Homo sapiens: one gene and its partners. The protein of the gene in region 2 purifies or fractionates together with the protein of the main gene of each other region. This does not show direct contact. Each region holds a gene or a part of one and is shown on either strand. Other genes may lie near its edges. The genes, in order: CLGN, FAM187B, VRK2, ATP1A3, PRSS33, EARS2 and SPPL2B.

What was found.
Region 1: the proteins of FAM187B (region 2) and CLGN purify together in Homo sapiens (affinity purification with mass spectrometry, with the first as the bait; one large-scale study listed by BioGRID). This does not show direct contact.
Region 3: the proteins of FAM187B (region 2) and VRK2 purify together in Homo sapiens (affinity purification with mass spectrometry; 3 studies listed by BioGRID and IntAct, with this or other methods). This does not show direct contact.
Region 4: the proteins of FAM187B (region 2) and ATP1A3 purify together in Homo sapiens (affinity purification with mass spectrometry, with the first as the bait; one large-scale study listed by BioGRID). This does not show direct contact.
Region 5: the proteins of FAM187B (region 2) and PRSS33 purify together in Homo sapiens (co-immunoprecipitation; one large-scale study listed by IntAct). This does not show direct contact.
Region 6: the proteins of FAM187B (region 2) and EARS2 purify together in Homo sapiens (co-immunoprecipitation; one large-scale study listed by IntAct). This does not show direct contact.
Region 7: the proteins of FAM187B (region 2) and SPPL2B purify together in Homo sapiens (affinity purification with mass spectrometry; 3 studies listed by BioGRID and IntAct, with this or other methods). This does not show direct contact.

The regions. Positions count from the first base shown.
Region 1 is NC_000004.12:140,393,094-140,397,042, forward strand, and holds part of CLGN (calmegin precursor), read right to left. Parts: intron 3,113-3,949; coding exon 2,999-3,112; intron 2,877-2,998; coding exon 2,726-2,876; intron 949-2,725; coding exon 733-948; intron 1-732. UniProt on the Homo sapiens protein: Functions during spermatogenesis as a chaperone for a range of client proteins that are important for sperm adhesion onto the egg zona pellucida and for subsequent penetration of the zona pellucida.
Region 2 is NC_000019.10:35,225,644-35,230,063, forward strand, and holds the start of FAM187B (protein FAM187B precursor), read right to left. Parts: upstream 3,097-4,420; 5' UTR 3,038-3,096; coding exon 2,316-3,037; intron 1-2,315.
Region 3 is NC_000002.12:58,084,431-58,088,379, reverse strand, and holds part of VRK2 (serine/threonine-protein kinase VRK2), read right to left. Parts: intron 3,500-3,949; coding exon 3,430-3,499; exon of another isoform or gene 3,381-3,429; intron 2,042-3,380; coding exon 1,954-2,041; intron 40-1,953; coding exon 1-39. UniProt on the Homo sapiens protein: Serine/threonine kinase that regulates several signal transduction pathways.
Region 4 is NC_000019.10:41,983,785-41,987,733, forward strand, and holds part of ATP1A3 (sodium/potassium-transporting ATPase subunit alpha-3), read right to left. Parts: intron 2,446-3,949; coding exon 2,332-2,445; intron 2,215-2,331; coding exon 2,080-2,214; intron 1,640-2,079; coding exon 1,522-1,639; intron 1,403-1,521; coding exon 1,134-1,402; intron 1-1,133. UniProt on the Homo sapiens protein: This is the catalytic component of the active enzyme, which catalyzes the hydrolysis of ATP coupled with the exchange of sodium and potassium ions across the plasma membrane.
Region 5 is NC_000016.10:2,784,494-2,788,959, forward strand, and holds the start of PRSS33 (serine protease 33 precursor), read right to left. Parts: upstream 3,068-4,466; 5' UTR 3,040-3,067; exon of another isoform or gene 2,982-3,039; intron 2,112-2,981; 5' UTR 2,055-2,111; coding exon 2,009-2,054; intron 1,629-2,008; coding exon 1,596-1,628; intron 1,469-1,595; coding exon 1,306-1,468; intron 1,154-1,305; coding exon 882-1,153; intron 679-881; coding exon 509-678; intron 310-508; coding exon 151-309; 3' UTR 1-150. UniProt on the Homo sapiens protein: Serine protease that has amidolytic activity, cleaving its substrates before Arg residues.
Region 6 is NC_000016.10:23,550,743-23,554,691, reverse strand, and holds part of EARS2 (nondiscriminating glutamyl-tRNA synthetase EARS2, mitochondrial), read left to right. Parts: intron 1-2,387; coding exon 2,388-2,543; intron 2,544-3,949. UniProt on the Homo sapiens protein: Non-discriminating glutamyl-tRNA synthetase that catalyzes aminoacylation of both mitochondrial tRNA(Glu) and tRNA(Gln) and participates in RNA aminoacylation for mitochondrial protein translation.
Region 7 is NC_000019.10:2,334,735-2,338,683, reverse strand, and holds part of SPPL2B (signal peptide peptidase-like 2B isoform 2 precursor), read right to left. Parts: intron 1,242-3,949; coding exon 1,059-1,241; intron 1,053-1,058; exon of another isoform or gene 1-1,052. UniProt on the Homo sapiens protein: Intramembrane-cleaving aspartic protease (I-CLiP) that cleaves type II membrane signal peptides in the hydrophobic plane of the membrane. Functions in ITM2B and TNF processing.

The DNA of each region.
Region 1 (3,949 bases), on a different chromosome or scaffold from region 2:
CTAAAAATCATACCTCAGAATTGTTTTCTTTTTTATATAAACACATTTCACACATAAGACCCTCAGTAAGGATATTATTTCTCTTATTAAAATAAAATTTAAAAAATCAAATGTTTTAGTTACAAGAGGTTCAAAACAAGAATCCCTCTTCACCTACTCTTTTGATGGTTTTTCGCTAGTGACCCAAGGAACCAAATGTAAGGTAAGAATTTTTCTTTATAGCAACTGAATTTAATGATACATTTTCTAAGATGCATTGTGTTGAAATATTTAGCCCAACCTTTTCTAAACAGTGTTAAGGTTTCGGGAAAAAACTGGAACAGAATTTAATAATGTTAAACTATAAATTCTTTGTACATTCCTCTAAGTAAAAAATAGTTAAATAAACAGTAATATTTAGATTATCATTGTCACTTAGGTCTTGAACTGGCAAGATGACAAAGATATTAAGTAGTCTTCTTCTATGAACAGTAAATAAGCATTAAATCCCATTAGTGATGTTATAATTTAATGAATAAAATGAGGACTTACATATGCATATATAGCTCATAATGAAGTAACATAAAAAGCAAAATATTCTGTCTACATAAACTTATTCAAACACATTTCCTTGGCATTTAGTAGTTACTGCACATTTATTTGCATTTAAAAGAGCCATCTGAATAACCTACAACCAAGACCAAGTATTATTATTCATAGTTATATCACTACTGCTATTGGTCAACACCATACCTTATTAGCATTTGCTATCATTATTTTCCATCTCCAACCATCTGCAGCCCAGTGATCTGCTACTTCCTTTTCCGAACAGATAATAAAATTATCAAAGTAGATATCAGAGGTCATAGACCAAAGCTCTAAACCAAGAGCACTGAAAGAAGTCAGAAGAAATGGATGATCATCTTCGAAATAATCTGGATTAGGAATTTTTCGAGGACTCCAGATTCCCTGGAAGAAAAGTAATTGAAGACATTTTCAAATAAAATAACTTCATTATAAATGCTGCTTAATAAGTAGCTGCTGTTGAATGAAATTCGCAATGCTAACTGGAAAAAAGAGAATTTTAACTGATATTAATTCATTAGTAATATACTGGATATAAAATCTTGTTTCTTTTGCTGTGTACACAATGTTCCCTACGAGTGATACTAACTTTAAATTCTGCAAGAAAAGGAAAAGGGAAAATCCAACATAAACAGAAACGTGAATAAATTTCACAATTTGTCTACTTTGGACAAATTTTTAGATTTAGTAAAGTTATTCATTGCAAAATGTTATTCAAGTTGTCCAAATCAGAAAGATCATTGTATAGCAAAAATGGAGTTACTCCATTTAACATATACCCATGACAGATATCATTAATCAGGTATGGTTGAATCTCGGCACAACTACTCAACCTAAAACTTCCATTAGATCTTAAATGATTAAACTGTCCATTAAATCAAATACATTCAACAATATCATTGCTCACTGACTCACTCCACCATCACATGTATGTATTCTGGGCCAGGCACTATGCCAGATGATGGAGACATACATGGTTCCTGTATTATGGAGTTTAAAGTCAAATAAAAGAGACAGACATCAAACAAAAAAATTTACCAAAAGAAACATTTTGTGTTAAATGCTTTTAATAAAAACTACAGTGAGTAATTAGAATATGAAACTGCATATATATAATGTTAGAACGTATCCATAAATAATTACAAAGATAAAACTAGAGGGTTAAGTGGATAACATAGAAACTTTTAATATAAAAAGCTAGGTACACTCAAAAGATGTCGATTGATATCAGAAAAAAATCAGGGCTGGGTTCGGTGGCTTACTTCTGTAACCTGAGCACTTTGGGAGGCCAAGGTGGGCGGATCACGGTCAGGAGTTCGAGACCAGCCTGACCAACATGTGAAACCCCGTCTCCGCTAAAAATACAAAAGTTAGCCGGGCGTGCTGGGGTGTGCCTGTAATCTCAGCTACGTAGGAGGGTGAATCAGGAGAATCGCCTGAGCCCAGGAGGCAGAGGCTGCAGTGAGCCAAGATCACGCCAGGCCAGGTTTTTTGTTTTTTTGTTTTTTTGTTTTGAGTCTTGCTGTGTCGCCAGGCGGGAGTGCAGTGGCACGATCTCAGCTCACTGCGATCTCCACCTCCAGGGTCCAAGAGATTCCCCTGCCTCAGCCTCCTGAGTAGCTGGGACTACAGGCGTGCGCCACCACATCTGGCTAATTTTTTGTATTTTTAGTGGAGACAGGGTTTCACCATGTTGACCAGGGTGGTCTCCATCTCCTGACCTCGTGATCCGCCCGCCTTGGACTCCCAAAGTGCTGGGATTACAGGCATGAGCCACCGTACCTGGCCAAAAATCAGAATTTTAATAATACTAAATAATAAGTACATTAATTAAGCACAGGCATTAATTACTAAAATGTACAATATGAGTCTATTTGATCAAAATTCACTTCTTATATTTACTTCTAAAATAGAACTTTATTTCAAAGTGAGCATCAACTGATAATTAGGGAAGAATATAGTATGAAGTGATTTATTTCCCCAGAAAATTAAATAATTGATGCTCTACTTTTAAAATATAAATTAGTTGAGGTCTATTTTCTTTGACATCTTAAAATTAAAAATGAAACTTCCAAAAGTTGACATAGGTAATTAGATATTTAAATAGAAAAGATCACAACATTTTTAACTTCACTAAATAATTGGAACAAGCGGTTGTTACCTGATAGTTAGGATTATCGACCAGTGGAGGTCTCCATACTCCTTTGTATTTTGGGTTATCTATCATGGGAGGTTTCCACTCACCACACCCAATCCGACATGCTGGATTAAGAATCTGAGGTGCCTCCCATTCTCCATCCGTGTCTTCATTCCTTAGGATATTAAAACAAAGCAAATACAGTAACCTCAAGTCTCAGATCAGTCATATAAACTAGTAACAAAAATGCATGTAAGAAACATTTGAAATCGACATTTGAAGATGAAGAGTGCTTACCAGTCATCAGGTTTTTCAGCATTAGGATCAGGGATAAATTTTGGTTCATCATCAAGCCAGCCAGCAGGTTTAACAACACTTGAATCTTCTATTTGGGCAGGTTCACTTTCATCCCTGTAAATACAACGTTTTATATTACTAATTATTCAGAAAGTTTAAAAATGCATGTTACAACACTAAGAAGGTACCATAAAATTATTTCCCTCCCTTTTGTTTGTGCCTGTTATTTGTCCTCATCTACTACCCACCTAAATCTTTTGCTAACTTGCCAATTTTTGGTACATATTCCCTGTTGTGCTCTATGCATACATGCACACACGTATACATTCTTTTTTTTAATACGAATGATAGCATTCTATACATAATGTATTAGACCTTGCTTTTGTTACTTAAAAACTCAGTCATTCATCAACAAATATATATTGCATGCTTACTATGTGTCAAGACTGTTCGAGGAGCTCCATTATTATTATTTTTTTCTTGAGGTGGAGTCTTGTTCTTGTTTCCCAGGCTGGAGTGCAATAGTGCGACCTCAGCTCACTGCAACCTCTGCCTTCCGGGTTCAAGCAATTCTCCTGCCTCAGCCTCCAGAGTAGCTGGGATTACAGGCACCTGCCACCACGCCTGGCTAAGTTTTTGTATTTTTAGTAGAGATGGGGTTTCACTATGTTGGCCAGGTTGGTCTTGAACTCCTAACGTCAGGTGATCCACCCACCTCAGCCCCCCAAAGTGCTGGGATTACAGGCATGAGCCACCATGCCTGGCTGGAGCATATATATATACATATATATATATATATGTATATATATATATATGTATATATATATATATACACATATATATATATACACATAGCTTCATTCTTAACAGTTGCATAGTTTTCTACTTGAGGATACACCATAATTTATTTAGCTTATCTCCTCTTGGAGGACATTTAGTGTTTCCAAAATT
Region 2 (4,420 bases):
GTCTGCAAAAATTTAAAAAATTAGCTGGACATGCTGACATGCGCCTGTGGTCCTGGCTGCTCAGGAGGCTGAGGTGGGAGGATTACTTGAGCCCAGGAGGTTGAGGCTGCAGTGAGCCAGTCACAGCACTGCACTCCAGCCTGGGTGACAGAGCAAGACCCTGTCCCAAAAAAGAAAACAACAAACCAAAAAAAATGGAGAGTAATGATTGTACCTCATAAGGTTATTTGGAGGAGTTAGCAAGGGCACTCCTTAAATGATTTGTCCACCTGCCTTTGCCTGTCTGGTCTCATCTCCTTCACTCTCCCCTTTACTCACTCTGCCTAGCCACGCTGCTCTCCTAGATGTTCCTCTGACATGCTGGGTGCAGTCTTGGCCCTGGCTGTTCCCTCTGTCCCCAGGGCTTCCTCGCCTCCTTTCAGTCTGGGCTGAAATGGCAGCTTCTCAGAGGAGCCTTCCCTGACCCCACCACTTGACACTTTTAACCTCCCCTATTCCCAGCATCCCTTCCTGCTCCGTCACCATCCAAAATACTATAGGTCGGGCACAGTGGCTCAGGTTTGTAATCCCAGCACTTTGGGAGGCCGATGTGGGAGGATCACTTGAGCCCAGGAGTTTGGGCTCAGCCTGGGCAACAAAGTGAGACCTCATCTCTACAAAACTTAAAAACTTAGCCGGGTGTGGTAGTGCATGTCTGTAGTCCCAGCTACTGTGGAGGCTGAGATGGGAGAATCACCTGAGCCCGGGGAATTGAGGCTGCAGTGAGCTGTGATTGTGCCACTGTACTCCAGCCAGGGTGAAAGAGCAAGACCCTGTCTCTAATAATAATAACAATAATAATAATAAAACTATATATTTATGCGCCACAAGGGCAAGAATCTCCGTTGGTTGTGTTCTTCACTGTTTCCCAGGTCCCTAGAATGGAGCTTGGCATATAAATATGCAGTGAACACGTGTTTAGTGGAGAAATGAATCAGGCACCGACACACCCAGCGTGGTGGAAGAACAGAGAGGATATTCCACAGACAATATCATAAAAGCTTGCATTCCCAGCTAGGTACATTGTGGAACTTCTTATTGGATGCTATGGCAGGCACTCTACAGTCTTTAGTCCCCTTAACACATCACAATGACCCTGTGTGGCCAGGGGCTGGCAAGACCTCTGCACTGAGTTAGACAGTGGCCCCCGCAAAATGCATGTCCTTCCCAGAACCTCAGAATGTAACATTATTTGGAAATTGGATCATTGCAGATATAATCAGTTGAGATGAGAGCATATTGGAATAAGGTGGGCCCTCAATCCCATCTGACCGGTGTCCTTTTAAGAAAAGGAAAAGAGAGACAGGGACACAGACACCCAGGAAGAATGCCAAGTGATGATGGAGGCGGGCATTGGAGAGAAGCAGCCACAAGCCAGAGAAGACCGGGATCTCTGACTGCATCCAGAAGCTAGAAAAAAGGAGGATTCTGCCCAGCTCACTCAGAGGGACTGAGAGGGAGCGTGGTTCTACTGACACCTTGATTTCAGACTTACGGCCTCCAGAAGGGTGAGACAATGGATTTCTGGGGTTTTTTTGTTTTTTTGTTTTTTGAGTCAGAGTTGTCTCGTGATGTTGCCCAGGCTGGAGTGCAGTGGTGTGATCTCGGCTCACTGCAACCTCCGCCTCCCGGGTTCAAGTGATTCTCCTGCGTCAGCCTCCTGAGTAGCTGGGATTACAGGCACGTGCCACCATACCTGGCTAATTTTTGTATTTCTAGTAGAGACGGGGTTTCACCATGTTGGCCAGGCTGGTCTCGAACTCCTGACCTCAGGTGATCCACCCACCTCGGCCTCCCAAAGTGCTGGGATTACAGGCATGAGCCACCGCGCCCAGCCTGCATTTCTTATTAAGGGGCAGGTGGACTGGGGGAGAGGAGGGGAAGGGGCTATTTTCCAGAGGCTCCTGGCAGGAAGTAAGAAGATGAGTGTGAGTTCTGGGAGGCAGGCCTTGATGGGAAGCCCCGGGGGCACCAGCCTCTCCTCCAAGGTCTCACTGACCTTTCCAGATGAAGCAGGGGCCTGTTGGAGCCCCTAAGCTTCCTGGGCTTCCCCCATCACAGCCCCATCTGTCTGCCTGGGCTTCTCCCATCCCGGCTCGCACCACCCTGGGCTGTGTCCCCCTCGGACTGTTTAAGAGCAGGGCCTGGCACTGTCCTGATGACCACTACGTGGCTGAACTGCAAAGAACGCCCACTCATCCCTCTGCACATATTACCAGGAAGGATCCCCTGACCGGAAGAATCTGGGTAGGGGCCAGAGGCAGGGATTCCATCACCTGTACATGGATCCTAAGGGACAGTCGAGCCACACAAATTCTGTCTTCTCATCGAGCCTGAAGTTGTCAAAAATGACGTAATCCACCCTTAACTGTGTGTTATTGGTGCACTGGACGTGGCAGGCTTCCACCTGCAGCTCAGGCCGCAAGCGGCTAGACCACACCAGCACCTCTCCCAGATAGAGCCAGCAGGGCATGGCTTCCTCCAGAGGCTCCTCAATGTAGCGGTACCCCAGGCGTTTACACTCGCCCGGCTCCTCACAGCGGTTGCAGTCCTGCCAGGGCTCCCACCAGGTAAAAATGAGCTGTTTGCTGCCCAAATGCAGGGTCTCGTTCTGCAGGGGCCTCTGACCCAGGTCCTTGTGTGTTATATGCAGGGTGGTGACATCCTGAAAGTCAATTTCATACTGCACCACTTGGCGGCCATTCTTGTTCCAGCAGTGGTAGAGGCCCGTCTGGGAGGGCAATGGATCTTTAATGAGAAGGCTGCCCTCGGGCATTATTTCCATATTGGAAATATTGGTGAGGCTGGTGAGCCTGCCCTTCTTGCCTTGTGTGAATAAATAGTACCAGTGCGCCCCCGAGGAGTTGCAATACAGGAGAATATCATTGCCTGAGAGTAGGGCCTGTTGGCACTGCTTACCACTGGGGCAGCTGATGGAAAAGTAGAACCCCAGTGCCGGGGCAGCAAAGTGGAGCAGCAGCCACAGCATGGGTGGCATGGTGGACTGGGGCTGTGGCAGTGGGCTGGTGCCACCCCGAACATTGTGAGGTCACCCATGAACTCTGGCCTCAGCCCTGGGCAGTGGGATGAATTGCAGCTACCACATGTGTGTGTGAGGTCACCATCCCCTTTTGTTTTGTGACAAGCTGACAACACTGTTTTTCTTTTTTTTTTTTTTTTCAGACAAGGACTCGCTCTTTTACCCAGGCTGGAAGGCAGTGCTGCAATCACAGCTCACTACAGCCTCAAACTCCTGGAATCAAGTAATCCTCTCACCTCAGCCTGTTGAGTAGCTGGGACTTCAGGTGCATGCTAACCATGCCCAGCTAGTTTAAAATTTTTTCTGTAGAGACGGGGTCTTGTTATGTTGCCCAAGCTGGTCTCGAACTCCTGGCTTCAAGCCATCCTCCCACCTTGGCCTCCCAAAGTGTTGGGATTACAGGCGTGAGCCACTGTGCCCCGCTGACCATATTTAATTTCTATTCCAAGCCCTCCATTTTGCTGGGAAAGGAGCAAACTTAATTTGTCTATTCAGAGTTTTCTCTACTACCTGCCCCGCTTCCTTTCCCAGGGGTGAGACTACATTCCCAGGGATGAAATAAGAGCATGAAGGTGTCACATGTGAACACTCAACACATATTTCCTGAACTCTTACTATGTTCTGGGCACACTTCTTAGCACTGGGGATAAAGCAGTAAACAAATCCTCTCGGGCTGGGCTCGGTGGCTCATGCCTGTAATCCCAGCACTTTTGGGAGGCTGAGGCGGGCGGATCACCTGAGGTCAGGAGTTCAAGACCAGCCTGGCCAACGTGGTGAAACCCCGTCTCTACTAAATAGCTGGGTGTGGTGGCGGGCATCTGTAATCCCAGCTACTCAGGAGGCTGAGGCAGGAGAATCACTTGAACCTGGGAGACGGAGGTTGCAGTGAGCCGAGATCGCACCGCTGCACTCCAGCCTGGGTGACAAGCGTGAAACTCCATCTCAAAAAAAATAATAAAAATTTAAAAAAATTTATCTCTGGTTACTGTTCTGACCTCCTGCACCTTTCCCCCTACTCCCTACCCTCCAACCACGCTGGCCTCCCGCTGTTCCCTGAATCTGTCAGGCAGGCAGAGGGGCTCTTGCCCCAGAACCATTGCACATGCTGGTCCCCGTCTCTTCCCTCAGCCATCTGCATGACTCAATACATCTTCAACAAATATTTTTCTCAGTTGCTCCCTTTCCTTCCATCCCCTTTTCTAAACACCTTCTCAGGCGGTGGCTCACACCTGTAATGCCAGCACTTGCCAGCACTTTGGGTGGCCAAGATGGGAGAATCACTTGAGGTCAGGAATTCGAGGCCAGCCTGGCCAACACGGTGAAGCCCCATCTCTACTAAAA
Region 3 (3,949 bases), on a different chromosome or scaffold from region 2:
AAATCTATTCCTAGTCTTTCCATTACCATAAATCTGTAACTGTAAGAAAAAAGCATCAAAAAGAGATCATCCTGAGAAAGTAATGCTTGAAACTGTCTATTTAATTTGAAACAAGAAAAATTACGCTCAACCTAACAACTAAGTATAATGCAATCTAAACCATTAGAGAATGAATGCACGTTCATAATTCTGCTATTCTTTTGCAGAAACTGCTCAATATTTACTTTGCAGCTGATTTTCTATAAGAGAATGCTGTACTGAACCATTCACACTGTTTTACATAATGAAAAAATCTTTCTAAATTAGATAGTACTGAATGCAATTCATTTTGACTCCATGACTTTCTTGCCATATGGCCTTGAACAAATTATTGTACACACTTGATTTTTTTTTTGAGACAGAGTCCCGCTCTGTCACCAGGCTGGAGTGCAGTGGTGCAATCTCAGCTCACTGCAACCTCCACCTCCCAGGTTCAAGCGATTCTCCTGCCTCAGCCTCCCAAGTAGCTGGGACTGCAGGCATGCACCACCACACCCAGCTAATTTTTGTATTTTTAGTAGAGACGGGGTTTCACCATGTTGGCCAGGATGGTCTCGACCTCTTGACCTCATGATCCGCCTGCCTTAGCCTCTCAAAGTGCTGGGATTACAGGCATGAGCCACCGTGCCCAGCCACATGAATTTTATATTTGTTTGTTTCTTGATAAGATCATATATACCGTCTCTATACATTTATAAACATGTCTTTAAGTGCACTTCTTCCTTTTCTGTTCTGTTTGGCACCTTCCATACCTTCTTTCCTTCCCTTCATTTATATATCCACATCAGCCCCTATTCTATATCTATGCATGCATACACAAACACACACACTTAGGAATTTGTTTTACAAAAATGTGATCATATTATAAGTATTTTCTCCATCTTACTTTTTTCAATAGTATCTCATCAAAATCCTTCTAAGGCAACTAGTATAGCTCTAATGGACTTCTTTAATGGGCTACATATGACATGATATGGATGTATCATGATTCAATCAGCCATTCAGTCCCCCAGTGGCAGTCCTTTACTTCAAGATTACTGTTTGCTCATTTTTTTAAATTTAAAGCATTTAGAGACCATTTCAACAAAGTACTGACATCTGAGCTTATTCTCTCATCTATGGAATAAAAATAATATCACCTATTTTAACAGGCTATTCAAAGGACAAAATAAGATAAAGTATATAAAAGTCTCTGGCACAAAAGGGTAAATATAAAATGACACACTTTTTTTCTTTTTTCAAACACTATTAATAAATTATATATAGGACTAGCCATATTTGGTGGTTTTAAAGATATTTCTATAACTTATTTGTTGTGCTTCTCCTCAAGAGATAGAACTGAATTCTCCTCTCTCAGGACCAATGGATCTATCTAGTGACTAGCTTCTAGCAAAGAGAATAAAGCAGAAGCGATAATATCCCTTTTAAGATTAGATTACAAAAAACGATGACTTCCTTCTTGAATGCACTTGTGTGCATGCTCTCCCCGTCCCCCAATTAATTGCTCTAGAGAAAGCCAGCTATTTTTCATAACACTCAGGTAGCTTATGCAAAGACCCACATGATCAGGAAGTAAGAAGGCCTGCCAACAATCACATAAGTAAATTAGAAGTAGATCTTCTTAGGCCTACCAGTAGCCACATGAGGAACCCTGAAAACAAATACTTCCCCAGATGAGCCTTGAAATGAATGTAACCCAGCAGACAGCTGACTACATATCCTTATTAGAGATCCTGATCTAGAATCATACAGATAAGCCACTTGCAGTCTCCTCACTCACAGAAACTAAGACAATACAAGTTTGTGGTTATATGCCAATATGTTTTGGTAATTTGTTACATGGCAATAGTTAACTCATAGACCACATAAGGAATAGTTATAAAGAAATATTTGATTATAATAATTCCATTTTACCTTCTTCCCTTGAATTCAGTCAGACCAGATCCATAAAACAGAGGAATTCCTAAATAATCAAGTTGTTTGCGTTCTATCCACTTTTTGACTACAAAGACAAATTTATTTTTAAAAAGATTCATGTTATTTGAAAAGATACTTGTCACCTTTCTACAGACAAATTTATTTAGCTAACCAAAAAAGTAATTAGATCTTCCTAGAAGATAATTTTTTTTCAATCAAACATCTCTATCTAATGGCCTCAAACTGTTACCACTATAATTAACAAAAAATTAGAAATTTTTAAATTAAATCAATAAAAACAAGTCATAGGCTTTGTATATTGATACCATATATATTAATGTTTCAATCTATAAAAAGAATTCATTATCTTATATACTAGCTAAATTTCTAAATATAACATATGTTAACCACCAAAAGATCAGTAGAGAGATGGCTTTTTCTTCCCTATTACTTCAAGATTTAAAACCATAATGGACCAAAAAAAAAAAAAAAAGAAAAAAAAAGCAGAAATTGGGCAGAAAAACCATCTTACTTTGAAATTACTTTATACAAAAACTGGTTTTGATTAGTTTACAAAAAATCAAATCCACTTAAATAAAGTTAACTTTCATCATTTTTTTCATGACTCTAGCCTATGTTTTTTATGTTTAAGACAGCTCTACTGATAAACAATCAAGTTTAATGGATTCTATTTGTCACTGTGACATAGTTTAAGCAATTAGTAAAGATTACAGTCTTAATGTTTAGAAGACTTTATTAAGAAAAACTAAGTTAAATATTGAGGTCAGACCCATCACTCTTATTCTTAAACATGATGTAAAGGACCTTGACTATACAGTCATTACTCCTGTCTACTTCTTTAATGTTTTTCTTAGCCCATCTATATCACATTTATAAAATGCTGTTATTTTTCCTCTCTGCTTATATTCATTTCCCATTCAAGTCTTCTAACTGGTCATTCTTACACTTGGTATCCAGCTCCAATTAATTTTCCAGCATTCAAGTTTCTAACATTTTCTTAAACATCTTAAAGTTTAATCATTTTCACATTTCCACACACCTTGCCCCAATCCATTCTACAATCGTTCTTTTTTTATACATATATCTACTTCCCATTTTAATGTTTTTTCCTTATAGCCGTCCTATCCAAATGGTTTACTGTAAAAGAAATAATTTCATTCTACTATCTTTTACACTTAGGGAACTCTTGGTAGCTTAGATTAACAACCTAACATTTTATGTAAAGTAGTAGAAACAACTTTGACTTAAAATATATAACCCATTATGTATGTCATGTCAAGATTTGTATACCATCTGTCTTGCTTTTATATGTTGTAACAGTTAACTGTATCACTTTACAATAAAATTTCTATTGAAAAGAATTTTCCAGAAGGCCAGAAAAAGACCAAAATATCAACACTCACTTTAGCAAGCACATATATGGAAGTAGCTTGCTTTGCTAATTTTACTTACTACAGTCTTTTTTTGCAACTCTCTGATAAAATTTAAGTTCTGAAAATAACGGGCCATTTTCTTGATATTCCTATAAAAAAAAGAATAATTAATTTTACTAGAAAAAAATAATCCCAAAGATGGAATTGTTATTTCAACTGTGAAAATATGAACATATATATGTAGTATATAATAGTACTTGAATCACTTTTTATAAAACATAGGCACCAGATTTCCACTAAAAATCTCAGAAAACACTAAATAAACTTGAAGAATCTAATTTTTAAACGACATATTGTACCACTATCCCTATACAGTCTTACACATAAAAGTAGTTTTCTTACAGAGAACACTTACTAGAAGCACTGAGAACTGTATACATAAACATATACAACACTCACTGTATACCAACATATACATCCAGGTGATACACAGCAAACTCTCCTTGTGGTCCACTCACACATGATACCTTTACTGAATGGTCTACTATATTTCATTCATTATACTAGGTACAGGGGACACCAAAAAGAAATAAAACCCT
Region 4 (3,949 bases), 6.8 Mb from region 2:
TTTTTTTGAGACAGAATCTCGCTTTTGTCGCCCAGGCTGGAGTGAGGTGGCACGATCTCGGCTCACTGCAAGCTCTGCCTCCTAGGCTCAAGCTATTCTCCTGTCTCAGCCTCCTGAGTAGCTGGGATTCCAGGCACCCATCACCACGCCTGGCTAATTTTTATACTTTTAGTAGAGATGGGGTTTTGCCATGTTGGCCAGTCTGGTCTCGAACTCCTGACCTCAGGTGATCCACCCGCCTCGGCCTCCCAAAGTCTTGGGACTACAGGCATGAGCCACTGCGCCCAGCCTTCACATTTTTTGGTAGAGATGGGTTCTTACTATGTTGTCCAGGCTTGTCTCAAACTCCTGACCTCAAGCAGTCCTCCTGCCTCAGCCTCCCAAACTGTTGGGATTAAAGGCGTGAGCCACTGCGCCAGGCTTATTATTTTATTTTATTTATTTATTTATTTATTTTTGAGATGGAGTTTCACTCTTGTCACCCAGGCTGGAGTGCAATGGCGTGATCTTGGCTCACTGCAACCTCCGCCTCCCAGGTTCAAGCGATTCTCCTGCCTCAGCCTCCTGAGTAGCTGGGATTACAGGCATGTGCCACCACGCCCCACTAATTTTGTATTTTCAGTAGAGACAGGGTTTCACCATGTTGGCCAGGCTAGTCTTGAACTCCTGACCTCAGCTGATCTGCCCGCCTTGGCCCCCCAAAGTGCTGGGATTACAGCGTGAGCCAGTGCACCCAGCCTCATTATTTTATTTTTTAACTTGATGTACTCTTCAACTTTTCATCATGAGCGTGCACTTCTTAATTTTGCAATAGGATTGTTGGCTCTTTACGGCTTGCCAGTGTTTCTCAAGATTTTTGTTTGTTTCTTTCTTTGATTGTTTGCTTTGTTAATGAGGCCCTCTGAGTCAGGCCCAAGTTGTCTTTCACAAGAATACTGTGATCCAGGCCCCCAGCCCCTTCTCCGGACCCAGGGGTCCAGATCCCAGCCCCTCCTCCCCCAGACACACGGGTCCAGGCCTCTAGCCCCTCCTCCCTCAGACTCAGGGGTCCAGGATCCCAGCCCCTCCTCCCTCAGACCCAGGAGCCCAGACCCCCAGGCCCTCCCCACCCAGACCCAGGAGCCTGGCCTTACAGTGACAGTGGCCAGCAGACCCTCTGGGACATTGGCCACGATGATGCCGATGAGGAAGATGACAGCCTCAAGCCAGGTGTATCCGAGAATGAGGGAGAGGATGAAGAAGGAGACACCCAGGAAGACAGCCACGCCGGTGATGAGCTGGATGAAGTGCTCAATCTCGATGGCGATGGGCGTCTTGCCCACCTCCAGCCCTGATGCCAGGGTGGCGATACGGCCCATGACAGTGCGGTCGCCCGTGGCCACCACCACGCCCCGAGCCGTGCCTGCAGGCCAGAGGGGTTAGGCTGAGGTGGGGTGGCTCAGGGAGGTTCTGGAGGCCTGACCCCCTGGGACACATCCCTGTGTCTGCCCCAGCTGTGTGTCTTCTCTGCACCCGCCTCACCTTCCACACAGTTGGTGGAAAAGAAGGTGATGTTCCGAGTCTCCAAGGGGTTGTCGTGAGTGCAGTCGGGAGAGCGAGTCTGGGGCTCGGATTCGCCAGTCAGGGAGGAGTTGTCCACCTGGGGGTAGGTGCAGCAGAGAGAGGGTTCAGTCCAGGGCCTGGGACAGGAGGGTATTTGTGTACAGGGCTTGGGGCTGAAGCCTGTGTGCCTGGAGATCACAGCTAGAAGCCTGGGTGCCCAGTGGGTGAGTGGTGTGTGGGAGGCCAGAGGCTGGGATCTTGAAGGTGGGGAAGGCACAGTGCTGCTGGCCAAGGTCTAGGGTCCCTAAGGATCTCCGAAAGGTGAGGGCTGGGCCTGGACTCCTGACTGTTGGGTGAGGAGGTGGCCCAGGGCCTAAACTCCTGGGTCTGAGGGAGGAGGGCCTGGGGGCCTGGACTCCTGGGTCTGAGGGAGGAGGGGTTGGGACCTGGACTCCTGAGTGTGAGGGAGGAGGGGCTGGGCCTGAGCTCCTGGGCAGCCCGAGGGAGGGTAAAGCCGGGCCCTAGGCCCAGGCCCACCTTGCAGCCGTGGGCTGAGATGATCCGCAGGTCAGCTGGCACTCGGTCTCCACCCTTGATCTCCACCAGGTCCCCGACCACCACCTCCTCAGCGTTCACCTGCATCTTCTCACCTTCCCGGATCACCAGGGCTTGCTGAGGTGGGATGGAGTAATGTCACCTCCCAGACTCCCTCTGCCTGGGGGTCACTGGGCCCGGCCCCCAGCCCATACACTAACACCCCCGTCTGGCCCCTTGCTGGGCACCCTTCACCTGGGGCACCATGTTCTTGAAGGACTCCATGATCTTGGAGCTCTTGGCCTCCTGGTAGTAGGAGAAGCAGCCAGTGATGATCACCACGGCCGCCAGCACGATGCCCAGGTACAGCTGTGGGGAGATGTGGGGATGTTGATCAGGGGCCGCCCAAGCCACTCTCCACCAGTCCCTGCTCGCCTGGAGTCTGGGAAGGGAGCTTTGTGTCAGTGGGGGTCTGTATTTGTGTGTCTGACCCTAGGTTGGTTATGAGGGTTGGTGTGTCTGAGTCTCCCCTGTTTGTGCTTGAGTCCCTCTTTCTGTAATGGTTGTGTTTGAATCTAAGGGTCTGTCGATTTTTTTTTTGAGACAGAGTCTCACTCTGTCGCCCAGGCTGGAGTGCAATGGCATGATCTTGGCTCACTGCAATCTCCGCCTCCTGGTTCAAGCGATCCTCCTGCCTCAGCCTCCTGAGTAGCTGGGACTACAGGTGCATGCCACCACACCTGGCTAATTTTGTGTATTTTTAGTAGAGATGGGGCTTCACCATGTTGGCTAGGATGGTCTTGATCTCCTGACCTTGTGATCTATCACCTTGGCCTCCCAAAGTGCTGGGATTACAGGTGTGAGCCATCTTTCCTGGCATTTTTTTTTTTTTTTTTTTTTGAGACAGGGTCTCGCTCTGCTGCCTAGGATGGAGTACAGTGGCACAATCTCAGTTCACTGTAGCCTCAACCTCCCAGATTCAAGCAATCCTCCCTCCTCAGCCTCCGGAGTAGCTAGGACTACAGGTGTGCGCCACCAGGCCCGGCTATGTTTTGTGTTTTTTTAGAGGCTGGGTCTGTCTGGGTATGTTACTCAGGCTACTGGAACTCCTGGTCTCAAGTTACCCTCCTGCCTTGGCCTCCCAAGGTGCTGGGATGACAGGCGTGAGCCACCATGCCCGACTTGTCCATCTGTTTTGTGTGTGTGTCTGTCCTCCTGCACATGTTGAGTCTGGGATGCGGCTGTCTGTCCATGTGTCTGTCTGACTGGCTGCATGCCTGACTTTACATTCTACAAGGCAGCTTCTTTGGTTCTCTGTGTGTGGATCTCTGTCTCTGTGTCTCCAGCTCTGCCTCTCTGTGAGAGCTTATGTCTAAGACTGTTTAGATTTGAACATCTGAGGACACTCTCTGTGCCTGACTCTCATGTCTCTCTGTCACCAGGTTATGCCTGCATTGCTGTGTGTGTGTGTGCGTGTCAGTGTGTGTGTGAGTTTCTCTGTCAGTGTATATCTGAGTCTGTGTCTGTGTTTCTGAATTAGGTGGCCATGTTTGAAACCACATCCTGGTGTGGCATCTGCGTTGACCCTCCGTGCACATGCGTGTGTGTGCACACACGCCTACCCAGGTGAGCAGCTCTGTGTGGCTGGTGTGTGGTCTGTGTTATGCGCATGGGATCTGAGGCTGCATCTCGAATGTGTCCCTGTGTTATGGGGATGGGCCCTGATGTATCAGCAGCGGGGTGTGCCTGGGTCTCTATGTGACACTCACTCTGGGTATCTGTCAAGCCATGACCACCTGCTGGTGTCTGTTCTCAAGGCCGCTGAGGTCACACAGCCTTGGGACAGAGCCCCGGCTCACACATCCTGCTGTGG
Region 5 (4,466 bases), on a different chromosome or scaffold from region 2:
GGTGGTGGGTGGGGGGTGGGGTGGCCTTTAGCTTTTTTAGGCATCTTGGCCTCGAGGCAGAAGGGATGTGGGGTATAGGCAGGTGCCTGGATGAACCAGGAGGCTGAGGGACCCCAGCAGCTGGCTCCAGGTCAGCCTCACCGGCTAGCATTAGAAGCTGACGCGAGCCTGAATCCAGGGGCTATATGTGGCCACACTGGTGTAGACCCCTGGACGGTTGGGCAGGGCACAACCCTTGCCCCAGCTCACCACGCCCACCAGGACCCAGCTCCCAGACTGCAGGCAGGTCAGAGGTCCCCCAGAATCACCCTGCAGGAGAAAGAGGAGCCTAAGTCCCAGCCCTCCCAGGACTTCAGTTCTCAGGGTTCCAGACCCCTGGCGTGGTGCCTCTAGGTTGGAGGCCAGGATCCTGAGCCTGAGTTGGGATGTCCTGGGTCCTGGAGTTCAGGGAGGGAGGGTGCTGGGCACAGGGAGGGGACTCCGGAGGCTGGGGAGGCTGGGTGCACACCTGGCAGGCGTCCTTGTGGCCCTGGGGGTAGCCGGCACACAGACTCCCAGGCAGCACAATGCGCTCAGCCTGGGGCACGTCCGCGCCCACGTGGTAGAGGCCGTCGCAGGTGCGCGAGTCCAGCAGCGGCACCCTTACTCCTTGTAGCGGTCGCCACTCTGGGAGGGGCACTGGGGGAAGAGGAGGGACCTCTGAGAGGAAGGCGTGGAGCGGGGGCCAGTGGGAGAAGCTGAGCTCTGAGTGAGAGGAGGTTTTGTTCCCTAGAAGCCGCGCTGGGTCCTGGATTGGGGCAGTGAGGGGCTGGGATTTCCAGTCAGATGGAGGAGGACGTGGGGGCTCCCGGATGCCTCGGAGCCCCGCCCTCCTGCCTTACCTCCTGGGCGGAGGCTGCCCCAGCCGGTGACCCGGCATGGTGTGCCGGGCGGCGGGCGGGCGCCGGGCACGGGCAGGCAGACGGGTTGGACGCGAGCGCTCAGGGGCACCGGGCGACGCAGCTGCAGCAGTGCCAGGTCGCCGCGGGCCCCGTCCTCGGAGTAGTCCGGGGGCAGCAGCACCCGTCGCACGGGCACCGAGAGCGTGCGGGGCGAGGTGGAGCCCAGACGCAGCGCCCCCAGGCGCACGCGGTACTCAGCTGGCAGTGCCCTCCTGCAGGACAGGAGCGGGGGACTACTTCCAGCACCGGGTCCTCGACCCCCTCCAGCCCGCCTCGACCCCAACGCCTCTGCCAGGCCACGCCCGGTCCTCTGCGGGCCTTGCCTTCCTTGCACACCCCGCCTGGGCCCTCGGTGAGCGCTGACCTGGGGAAGCAGTGCGCCGCTGTCAGCACCCACTGGGGGGCGATGAGCGACCCCCCGCACACGTGTGCCCCACGATGCTGGATGCTCGCCTGCCACGGCCACTCTCCGTCCCGGCCATCCCGGCCCCCAACGATCCGACTGGACATGCGGGGCTGCCCGCAGGCTAGAAAAGGACCAGGGGCGGTGAGGGTTGGCTGAGGACCTGGGGCCTGGGAGGCAGGTGTTGGTGGGGAGACACGGGGCCGAGGTCCAGGAGGGGCTGACTCGGGTGGACTCCGAGGCTTCCTCACCTGCAGACTTCCTTCCCTGAGTCCCAGCAGCTCCTGGAGGAGGAAGCAGGGAAGGGACCAGATTATAGATTTGGTGTCAAATAACGGAGTTGGAGGGGAGGCCAGAGATGAGGAAGGAGGGTGAAACAATGTTGCCCTGACATTGCGCCAGGCTTTCGTGCCGTCTGTTATCTTATTTAACCCTCCCCAGAGCACTGTGAAGGTGCAGGGGGCAAGGGCGTATGAGCATGACACCGACAAGCACATCGAGGTGTGGTGAGGTCAAGGTCAGTGGCAGAGAGGATTGAGCCCTTGGAATCAAGATTAGAAAGCCCAAGAGTGCTCCAGGGAGCCCGGCCCAGGGAGCAGTGAGATGGGAGAACTGGGAGCCAAGGTGTCTGCGGCCCTCACCCCCAGTCCCTGTCCCCACTCACCCAGCACCAGAAGGAGCAGGACCTGGAGACAGGAAACCCCTCTCATTCTGTCTTCAAGGCTGGGCTGGGTAAGGGTGGCACTGCCTAGGGCTTGGACTCTGGTCTGGAGCCAGCAGGGAGAAGAGAGGAGAGTCCTGGCCCAGGGGCACCAATCCTCACACCAGCCCGTCACCCCCTCCGTGGTCCTTCTGTCTGTCCTCAGCTCCTGGTGGGTTCTGGACTTATCCTGGTGGCCCAGGCTGTATACCCTTCGTTCTGCCCAGGGCCCAGGTATGCAGCACCCACCACCCAGATATTTGGGCATCCTTGGTCTCGACAGAAGCCCTGGAGCCTAACCCCCCTCGGTCATCCTCACTCCCTCCCTCATCCCCCTCCCCCATCCTCACCCCCTCCCTCATCCTCACCCCCTCCCTCATCCTCACTCCCTCCTCCATCCTCACCCCCCTCCTCCTCACTCCCCTCCCTTATCCTCACCCCTTCCCTCATCCTCATCCCTCTCTCATCCTCACCCCCTCCCTCATCCTCACCTCCTCCTCTATCCTCACCCCGTCCTCCATCGTCACCCCTGCTCCTCCTCACTCCCCTCCCTCATCCTCACCCCCTCCCTCATCCTCACCTCTCATCCTCACCCCTCTCTCATCCTCACCCCTCCCTCATCCTCACCCCTCCTCTATCCTCACCCCCTCCTCCATCCTCAGCCCCCTCCTCCTCACTCCCCTCCCTCATCCTCACCCCCTCCCTCATCCTCACCCCTGTCTCATCCTCACCCCCTCCCTCATCCTTCACCCCCTCCCTCATCCTCACTCCTCTCTCATCACCCCTCCTCCATCCTTCACCCCCCCATCGTCACCCCCTCCCTCATCCTCACCCCCTCCTCTATCCTCACCCCCTTCCTCCTCACTCCCCTCCCTCATCTTCACCACTTCCCTCATCCTCACCCCCTCCCCCATCCTTCACCCCTCCTCGTCCTCACCCTCATCCTCACCCACTGGCTGCCCCTGCAGCCCCCACAGCCCCTGGCTTGCTCTCACCCTCACAGCCTGGCGCCTTCTGCTGACTGGGGTTGAGGGAGGGCCTGGGGGCTTAAAGTGCCAGGAGAGCGCGAGGCTCAGCCAAGGAGTAATGAACAGGGCCGGGGCGGGGCTGTGGCTTTACCGGACCAGCCTCAAACAAAGATGCTTTGAGCAGAGCTTCAGAGGTGGCAGGAAAGGGTCAATGGGTTTCTCAAAGGAAGCCTGCCTTGCGCCAAGGTACTAGAAGTGGGGGCTGGCGGAGAGCAGTGGTGCGGGTAGGTGCTGGGAGGGGTGGCAGTCAGGTGGGGAAGCTCTGCAGGATCCGGGGCAACTCCTCTCCAAACCTGACCTGGGCTCCCTGCAGAGCACACGTTGCTGGAGCTTCTGCGCTCCATTGTTCTGTCCAGAAATCCCATCTCAGACGGAAGTCCTGGCCAGACAGCTCCACCCAGAGACCCCAGCATGGCCAGCCCCCTTCCAGATCCGGGGTCTGGAGCAGCTGGAGGTGGAAAGGGACTGGTTCAAAGTTGGTGGCACTCCTTACTTGACCAGAGGCAGGGGGAGACTTGACCTTGGGGACCAGTGCAGTCTTTGGTTTGGGGTGGCCGAGACAGAGCAAGATGCTGGGGTCAGGGGACAGGAACTCCCCTTCTCTCGAGGCCCGTGGAGGACCGGGGCCCGGATGGTCCAGGGCCCTGTAGTTCCCTCTTGGGCTCATACACAGTGTTCGCTGCCTAGAAGTCTCTCAAGTCCCTCTCTGCATAGTGAACTCCTCTTATCCCTCAGCCTTCTGCTCTGCCACCTCCTCCTGCCTCCTTTGCAGCCCTGCCATAGTTGTACTTTTTTCCTTTTTTTTTTTTTTGTTTTTCTTTCTTTTTTTTTTTAAAGAGACAGGGTCTTGGCCAAGCATGGTGGCTCATGCCTGTAATCCCTGCATTTTGGGAAGCCGAGATGGGTGGCTCATTTGAGGTCAGGGGTTTGAGACGAGCCTGGCCAACATGGTGAAACCTCGTCTCTACTAAAAATACAAAAATTAGCCAGGCCTGATGGTGGGCGCCTGCAATCTCAGCTACTCGGGAGGCTGAGGCACAGGAATTGCTTGAACCCGGGAGGTGGAAGTTGCAGTGAGCCGAGATTATGCCACTGCACTCCAGCCTGGGCGACGCAGTGAGATTCTGTCTCAAAAAAAAATAAAAAGGGAGAGAGAGACAGGGTCTTGCTCTGTCACCCAGGCTGGAGTGCAGTGGTACAATCACAACTCCCTGCGTCCTTGACCTCTGGGCTCAAGTGATCCTGCCACCTCAGCTTCCCAAGTAGTTGGGACCACAGGTGCATGCCACAGCACCTAGCAATTTTTTTTTCCAGAGATGGGGTCTTGCAATGATGCCCAACTTGTTCTCGAACTCCTGGGCTCAAGAGATCCTCTTGCTGTAGTCTCCCAAAGT
Region 6 (3,949 bases), on a different chromosome or scaffold from region 2:
GGGACTCGTGGGACTCAGTGCCACTGAATACCACTGGTTTTCTGGTGTCCTTGCAGTAACTATCCGAAGGTTACACACATCAGTGTTGAAGCAGGGTCGGCCTGGCCCCAGAAGAGCTTTTTCTCTCCTCTGCTGCCTCTTGTACTTGTAAATGTAGATGAGCTCATTGTGGAGACTTAGGGCTGTGGGCTGGTCCGAAGAAGGTACGGTAAGAGGTAATGACAACTCTGGAAAAGCTGTTAACTTTCAGTTTTCAGACAGGAATGATGAAAAAGGCAAATCTTAGGAGTTTAAACTGATGAAGAGAAATACAGTGGAATCAAACACTACTTTTGGTTAGTGTTTAAAGCCAGCAATTAGGGTGAAAATCTTGGCAAGGCATGGTGGCTCATGCCAGTAATCCCAGCACTTTGGGAGGCTGAAGTGTAAGGATTGCTTGAGCCCAGGAGTTTGAGACCAGCCTGGGCAACATAGTGAGACCTTGCCTCTGCAAAAAAAAAACCAAAAAACAAATATTAGCCGGGCATGGTGGTGTACACTTGTAGTTCCAGCTACTTGGGAGGCTGACGTGGGAGGATTGATTGAGCCTGGGTGGTTGAGGCTGCAGTGAGCCGTGACTGTACCACTGGACTTCAGCCTGGGCAAGAGTGAGACCCCATCTCAAATTTCAAAAATGAATTTTGTTTCTTTAAAAAAGTAAAAATCTCAAGTAGATGAAATTTAAAATGTACGACGTGGACAGTCATGCACACTGCATAGACTGCATATGCAAAATGTGATTTTTTTTTTTTTTTTGGAGATGGAGTCTCGCCCTGTCGCCCAGGCTGGAGTGCAATGGTGCGATCTCGGCTCACTGCAACCTCTGTCTCCTGGGTTCAAGCAGTTCTCCTGCCTCAACCTCCCAAGTAGCTGGGATTACAGGCGCCCACCACCATGCCCAGCTAATTTTTTTTGTGGTATTTTTAGTAGAGACGGGGTTTCAACATGTTGGCCAGGCTGGCCTCAAACTCCTGACTTTGTGATCCACCCGCCTCGGCCTCCCAAAGTGCTGGGATTAAAGGTGTGAGCCACCATGCCCCACCGATTTTTTTTTTCTTTGTAGAGACAGGATCTCACAATGTTGCCCAGGCTGGTCTCAAATTTAGAGACCCAGGTGATCCTCGTGCCTCTGCCTCCAAAAGTGCTGGGATTAGAGGTGTGAGCTACTGCACCTGGCCCACAATATGATTGTACAGTATTTTAAATTTCTAGTTTGTTTGTAATTAATTTTTTTCCCAGCGCACATCATTGAATTTCTGTAAGTTAAATGTACATGATATGGCCTCAATGAATAACTCTCTGCTTCTCTTTCAGGCGAAACTTGGCCTTGAGACAAATATCAAAATAGAGTGGTGGATGCAGTTGGGGAAAATTGGAGCCTTTTAATAAAATGACATGCTCCAAATCCTGGGTGGTTTCCATTTTCAGGATGAGGGATTAAATGTGTCTGGAGACAGGGCACAGGGGTAACTAGTTCTTAGTCTTTGAAAAAAAATTTTTTAATTTTTAATTTTTTTTGTTTGAGACAGAGTCTCACTCTACTGCTGCCCAGGCTGGAGTGCAGAGGCGTGATCATGGCTCGCTGCAGCCTCAGCGTCCCCAGGCTCAGGTGATCCTCCCACCTCAGTAACTGAAACCACAGGCATGTACCACCATGCCCAGCTAAATTTTTATATTTTTTGCTAAGACAAGGTCTCACCATGTTGCCCAGGCAGATCTCAAACTCAGGCCAAGCACAATGGCTCACGCTTGTAATCCCAGCACTTTGGGAAGCCAAGGCAGATGGATCACTTGAGGTCAGGAGTTCGAGATCAGCCTGACCACCATGGCAAAATCCTATCTTTACTAAAAATACAAAAATTGGCCAGGTGTGATGGCTCTTGCCTGTGATCCCAGCACTTGGGAGGCCGAGGCTGGGGGGATCACTTGAGGCCAGGAGTTCAAGACCAGCCTTGCCAACATGGCGAATGCCTGTCTCTACCAAAAATACAAACATGTAGCTGGACGTGGTGGCACACACCTGTAATCCCAGCTACTCGGGAGGCTGGGCATGAGAATTGCTTAAACACAAGAGGCAGAGGTTGCAGTGAGCCAAGACTGTGCCACTGCACTCCAGCTTGGGTGACAGAGTGAGACTCTTGTCTTAAAAAACCTACAGGAACCTCCTGGGCTCAAGTGATCCCCCCGGCCTTGGCCTCCCAAAGTGGTAGGATTACAGGCGTGAGCCAATGTGTCCTGCTGGTCTTTTAAATTTATTGCAACATTCTGTCACAGTAGTGCTTACTTGCCCCTTGCTGAGGCCTATTAGCTTATCTTCCCTGTCTTATCTGAGCTGTTCTCTTCTCCAGGCTTCTTGCACCTGGGTGGCCTCCGCACTGCCTTGTACAACTACATCTTTGCTAAGAAGTACCAGGGGAGCTTCATCCTGAGGCTAGAGGACACAGATCAGACTCGCGTTGTGCCTGGGGCAGCGGAGAATATTGAGGACATGCTGGAGTGGGCAGGTAAGCCTGGCAGAGAAAGGATCTTTCTGCAGGGAAGGAACAGGAAGCAGGAAAAGGAGCCTGTGGGTCTTCTCATGGAGTTCTGAGTGGAAAATGGGGAGTTCCTGGAGAAGTGGCTACATTTGTACTGCCCTGCCCGGGGTGGCAGATGACACCTGAAAAAATGCCGAAGCTCTCTGAAACACAGCTCCAAGACTGGTTTCTTTATTTTTATTTATTTATTGTTTTTGAGACAGAGTCTTGCTCTGTTGCCCAGGCTGGAGTGCAGTGGTGCGATCTCGGCTCACTGCAAGCTCCGCCTTCCGGGTTCACGCCATTCTTCTGCCTCAGCCTCCAAGTAGCTGGAACTACAGGCGCCCGCCACCACGCCCGGCTAAGTTTTTTTGTATTTTTAGTAGAGACGGGGTTTCACTGTGTTAGCAAGGATGATCTTGACCTCCTGACCTCGTGATCCACCTGCCTCGACCTCCCAAAGTGCTGGGATTATAGGCATGAGCCACCGCGCCCAACTTGGTTTCTTTATTTTTTAATTTTTTAGAGTCAGGGTCTCATTTTGTTACCCAGGCTAGAGTTCCATGGCACAATCATAACTTACTGTAGCCTCGACCTGGGCTCAAGTGATCCTCCACCTTAGCCTCCCAAGTAGTTGGGACTACAGGCACGCACCACCACGCCTGGCTAATTTTTAATTTTTTTGTAGAGATGAGATCTCACTGTGTTGCCCAAGCTATTCTCAAACTCCTGGGCTCAAGCAATCCTCCTGCTACAGCCTCCCAAAGAGCTGGGATTACAGGTGTGAGCCACTGCCAAGGCTGTTTTGAGATTCCTGTTTTCACCTCAGAATCTCAAGTTCATTCCCTACAGGGGCCAGGCAGGAAACACAGGGCCAAGTGGGAACTGGAGGAGCTGGGCCAGTGCTGAGCTGTGAAAACCACACCTCATCCAGAGTTGGGAGTGCCTCTGAGCTCCAGCTCCTTGTGCCCATGCGGGAATGCTGGCCCAGCTTGTCCAATCCTCTGAGTTGCAAGAGGAGCCAGAAATCCAGTTTTTCTGGATGAATACTTAACCATTATTAAATCTGGGCTCAGATTTTTTTTAACCATGTTGTATAAGCCACACAAAACACGTACAGCTTCTGAAGTTGATCTTGTGGGAAGTTTTATCCTGAGGACAGCTAAGGTCAGGGAGAACAAAGAGGAGTGTGTTTCCTTTTCATGGGTCGACAGTTGTCTACCTGTATGGACGGGTGTGACTAGGAAAGGGGAGATTCCCAAGGAAAAATACCAAGACTCTGCTAGTCTAGAGATTGAAAAAAAAAGAAAGAAAAACCCCAAGACTATTTTGAGATGTGTGTTCTAATCTCAGGTAAATTACTCACTAAACTCTGGATTCCTAAAGAGTATAAA
Region 7 (3,949 bases), about 33 Mb from region 2:
ATTCGCCTCCTCTCCTGGGACCCTCACTCGAGGCTCGGGTCAGGCTGGGGGCGCCTGCTGGCTCCCCCTCTGCAGCTGACAGCCTCCGGCCCCCCAGGAGGACCCAAGAACAGGGAGGCCGAAGGGCATCAAGCCTTCTTCACCTGACAACAGGGCCCCAGGCCTAAAAGCGCCACTAATCCCTCCCTCGGCCGTGGGACTCCCGAACCGCACATACAAGTCCTGAGTGATACTTGTCACAGCCCATGCCTGCCCACTAAGCCGCCTTGAGCCCCGCACCCACTGAGGGCCTCTCTCAACTACGACGGCAGCGTGTGCGGACAGGGATGGCACTCTCGGCTCTGCCCGGCCTGCTCTGCCCTCGGCCCTGAGCCCCTGCACCAGGCCTCCGTGGATTGCCAGGCTCAGGGTGCAACACTGGCGGGGGCAGCCCAGAGCCACAGGCAGAGCTGTGAGGGAATTCCTGAACTCCATTCCTTCTTACTCCAAAACTACACTTCAGGGGCGGCCACGCACCCTGCCCAGCCCAGCAGTCGGCATGTCCCTGTGCTGTGACCAGCCCTGCCAGGCCCCCAGCTCTCAACCACAGCCCCATTTCACAGAAGATGGAAAAGGGGCCAGGCTTCAGGCCACCTGGCTAGGACCACAGGCGAGCACGGCCCCACCGGCTAGAGGGCAAGGGCACCAGGGTACCCAGAAAGGACCAGCTCAGGGCCAGGCCACCTGCTCCTCAGAAGCCACCCCAATCCCATCCCCACAGAGAGTGTGGTCTCCGTCACCCCTGGGGGCTGCTCTAGGACAGGCACCCAACAAGACCACGGCCAAAGTTCCACAGCCCCAGCCAGCAGCTCAGGAAGAACAGACTCATCTCCGCCCTCCCCACGGCCACACTCGGCCCGGATCCTCCCCATGTTCACACTCGGCCCAGATCCTCCCCACAGATGGATCTGCCTTTAGCGAGAAGTCGGAAGACCAGCCCCAGCTGCTGCCATCTCTGCCTCCTGCACCCCCCTCCTGCCCCTGAGAGCTGGCCCAGCGGGGGACGCACAGGGCCGTACCAGCCTCTCCCTGCTGACGATGAGCAGCCCGCGTGCTCCGCTGCCCTGGGCCAGCCTCACTTTCTCATAGAAGGTGCAGTTCCCCCGCGCCACCAGCGGGATCTGGTTGCTGAAGCCACGGGCGGGGAGGTCGGCTGCGGAGCAGAGCAGGGAGGCCGTCCAGTTGCGCAGCTGCAGGAAAGACTGGAAAGGCCAGGGCACAGTGTTGTCTCACGTGATGTGAGTCACCAGGAGGGCCCAGCTGCCCGTTCTCCCACCTGAAGCCTGCGCTGAGTTAGATCCCAGCCCTCACCTAAAGCCCCGCACGGCCTCGGCCCACCTAGGCAGAGCCATCCCTACTGCAGCTCCCACAGCCGGACCCTGGGCGACGGGCTGGGCTGCCTCATCTGAGCGGGGCCGGAGTCCTCACAGACATGGCTGTCCCCTGATACCTGAGCCACCCCGCGAGCCGTCACAGATCACTCAGCAAGACCAAGTGGGTCCCCACCGCAGCCCCACCACGGCCAGGCATCTGTGAGAAGGGGGAGGGTTTCCAGTGTGCAGAGAACAAAGCCCCAACTCTCAGGGGCCTCACAGCCCCTGAAGCCAAGACACACACGCACACACACACGCACACGCACACACACACCCACAGCCAGGCCGGAACACGCGCACACACAAGCACACGTCCACAGCCAGGCTGGAGCACACGGCACACACATGCATACATGCACACACACACACACACCCACAGCCAGACCAGTGCACACGCACACACCCACAGCCAGGCTGGAGTGCACACACACACACACGCACATAGCCGCAGCCAGGCCAGCGCGCACACACACACACACCCACAGCCAGGCTGGAGTGCATGCACACACACGTGCACACATACACAGCCAGGCCGGACCACATGGCACACATATGCACACGCAAGCACACACATGCACACTCACACTCAAGCAGACACATGCCTATTACACACATGCACACACACACGCACACACAGCCAGGCCAGAGCACACAGCACACGTGTGCATATACAAGCACATACCTGTGCACTCAAGCTCACGCACACACACCTATTACACACACATGCATACACACACGCCACATGAACTCACACACTCACACGCACATACCTATTACACATGCACTCACACACACTCATGCACACACACGAACCCAAACACACAGGCACATACACATCCACACACAAACCTATTATCCACATGTACACACACATACACACAGACCTATTACACATGTACACACGCACACATGTGCAGACACATGCACACATCCACAAACATAACTATTATGTAGCTACATGCTTACACACACCTGCACACATACAGACACACATGCACTCACACATCCATACACAAAACTATTGCATGCACACTCACAGGCACATGTGCACATAAAAACAGACATACACATTCAGACCCATGCACATGCCCCCACACACCTATTACACACATGCTCACACACACAGGTGTGCTGACACACAAACACGCACTAAGGCACACATGTCCATGCACATATCTAGTACACATGTGCTCACACACACAAACTCAGAAATATGCACTCAGGCACATGTCTTCACACATACCTATTACATGTGTTCACATACCTATTACATGTGTTGACACACACCTATGTGTTCACACACAAAAAAACACTCAGGCACATGCACACATACACTGATGCAAACTCACATAAACATGCAGACACATGAGCATGTCCAGGCACATACTGATTACACACGTGCTCACACGCACACACTATGCATAAAGCTGACAGGAAGATGCTAGTGCCTCTTCGCCGGCACACCTCGAGGGCTCCAGGAGGGGGCGGGACACAGTGGGAAAGGAGGCGGGGCCTGAGGGACTCAGTGGGAAAGGAGGCGGGGCCTGAGGGATGCGGTGGGAAAGGAGAGAGGGCCTGAGGGATACGGTGGGAAAGGAGGCAGGGCCTGAGGGATGGGGTGGGAAAGGAGGCGGGGCCTGAAGGATGCAGTGGGAAAGGAGGCAGGGACAGAGGGGTGTGGTGGGAAAGGAGGCGGGGCCAGAGGGATGCAGTGGAAAAGGAGGCAGGGCCTGAGGGATGAAGTGAGAAAGGAGGCGGGGCCTGAGGGATGCAGTGGGAAAGGAGGCGGGGCCTGAAGGATGCAATGAGAAAGGAGGCGGGGCCTGAAGCATGCAGTGGGAAAGGAGGCGGGGCCTGAAGCATGCAGTGGGAAAGAAGGCGGGGCCTGAAGGATGCAGTGAGAAAGGAGGCGGGGCCTGAAGGATGCAGTGGGAAATGAGGCGGGGCCTGAAGGATGCAGTGGGAAAGGAGGCGGGGCCTGAAGGATGCAGTGGGAAAGGAGGCGGGGCCTGAAGGATGCAGTGGGAAAGGAGGCGGGGCCTGAAGGATGCAGTGGAAAGGAGGCGGGGCCTGAGGGATGCGGTGGGAAAGGAGGCGGGGCATGAGGACTAAGTGGGAAAGGAGGTGGGGCCTCTGAGGGAGGGACTCATCCAGCAGCAGGTGTTAGTGCCCCAGTCAGGAAGACGGTGAAAGGAACAGGTCTCGTCCCTGGGGCCCCACTGTGCCCTCTGCTGTTACTCCTCTGAGGACCCCTCTGTCTGGGCCCACTGGATAGGGTCCCCGGCATGGAGCAGTAGAGACCCTTATCTACCACATGGAGCTCGGCCGGTGCCTCTGGATCTGCACCCCAAGGCCGCATGGACAGCTTGCATTGATGACCAGGGTTGGGGAGGCCCAGGGGAACTGGGGGCCAGCTAAGAGTCCCCCAGACCTGGTCAGGGCCTGCCTCTCGCCTCTGGATCTTTCCTGCAACCCCAGCCGGATGTGTCTCTAGAGCCCCGGGGCCCCCGCATTCTCCTCCGCAGCGGCGCCCGGCC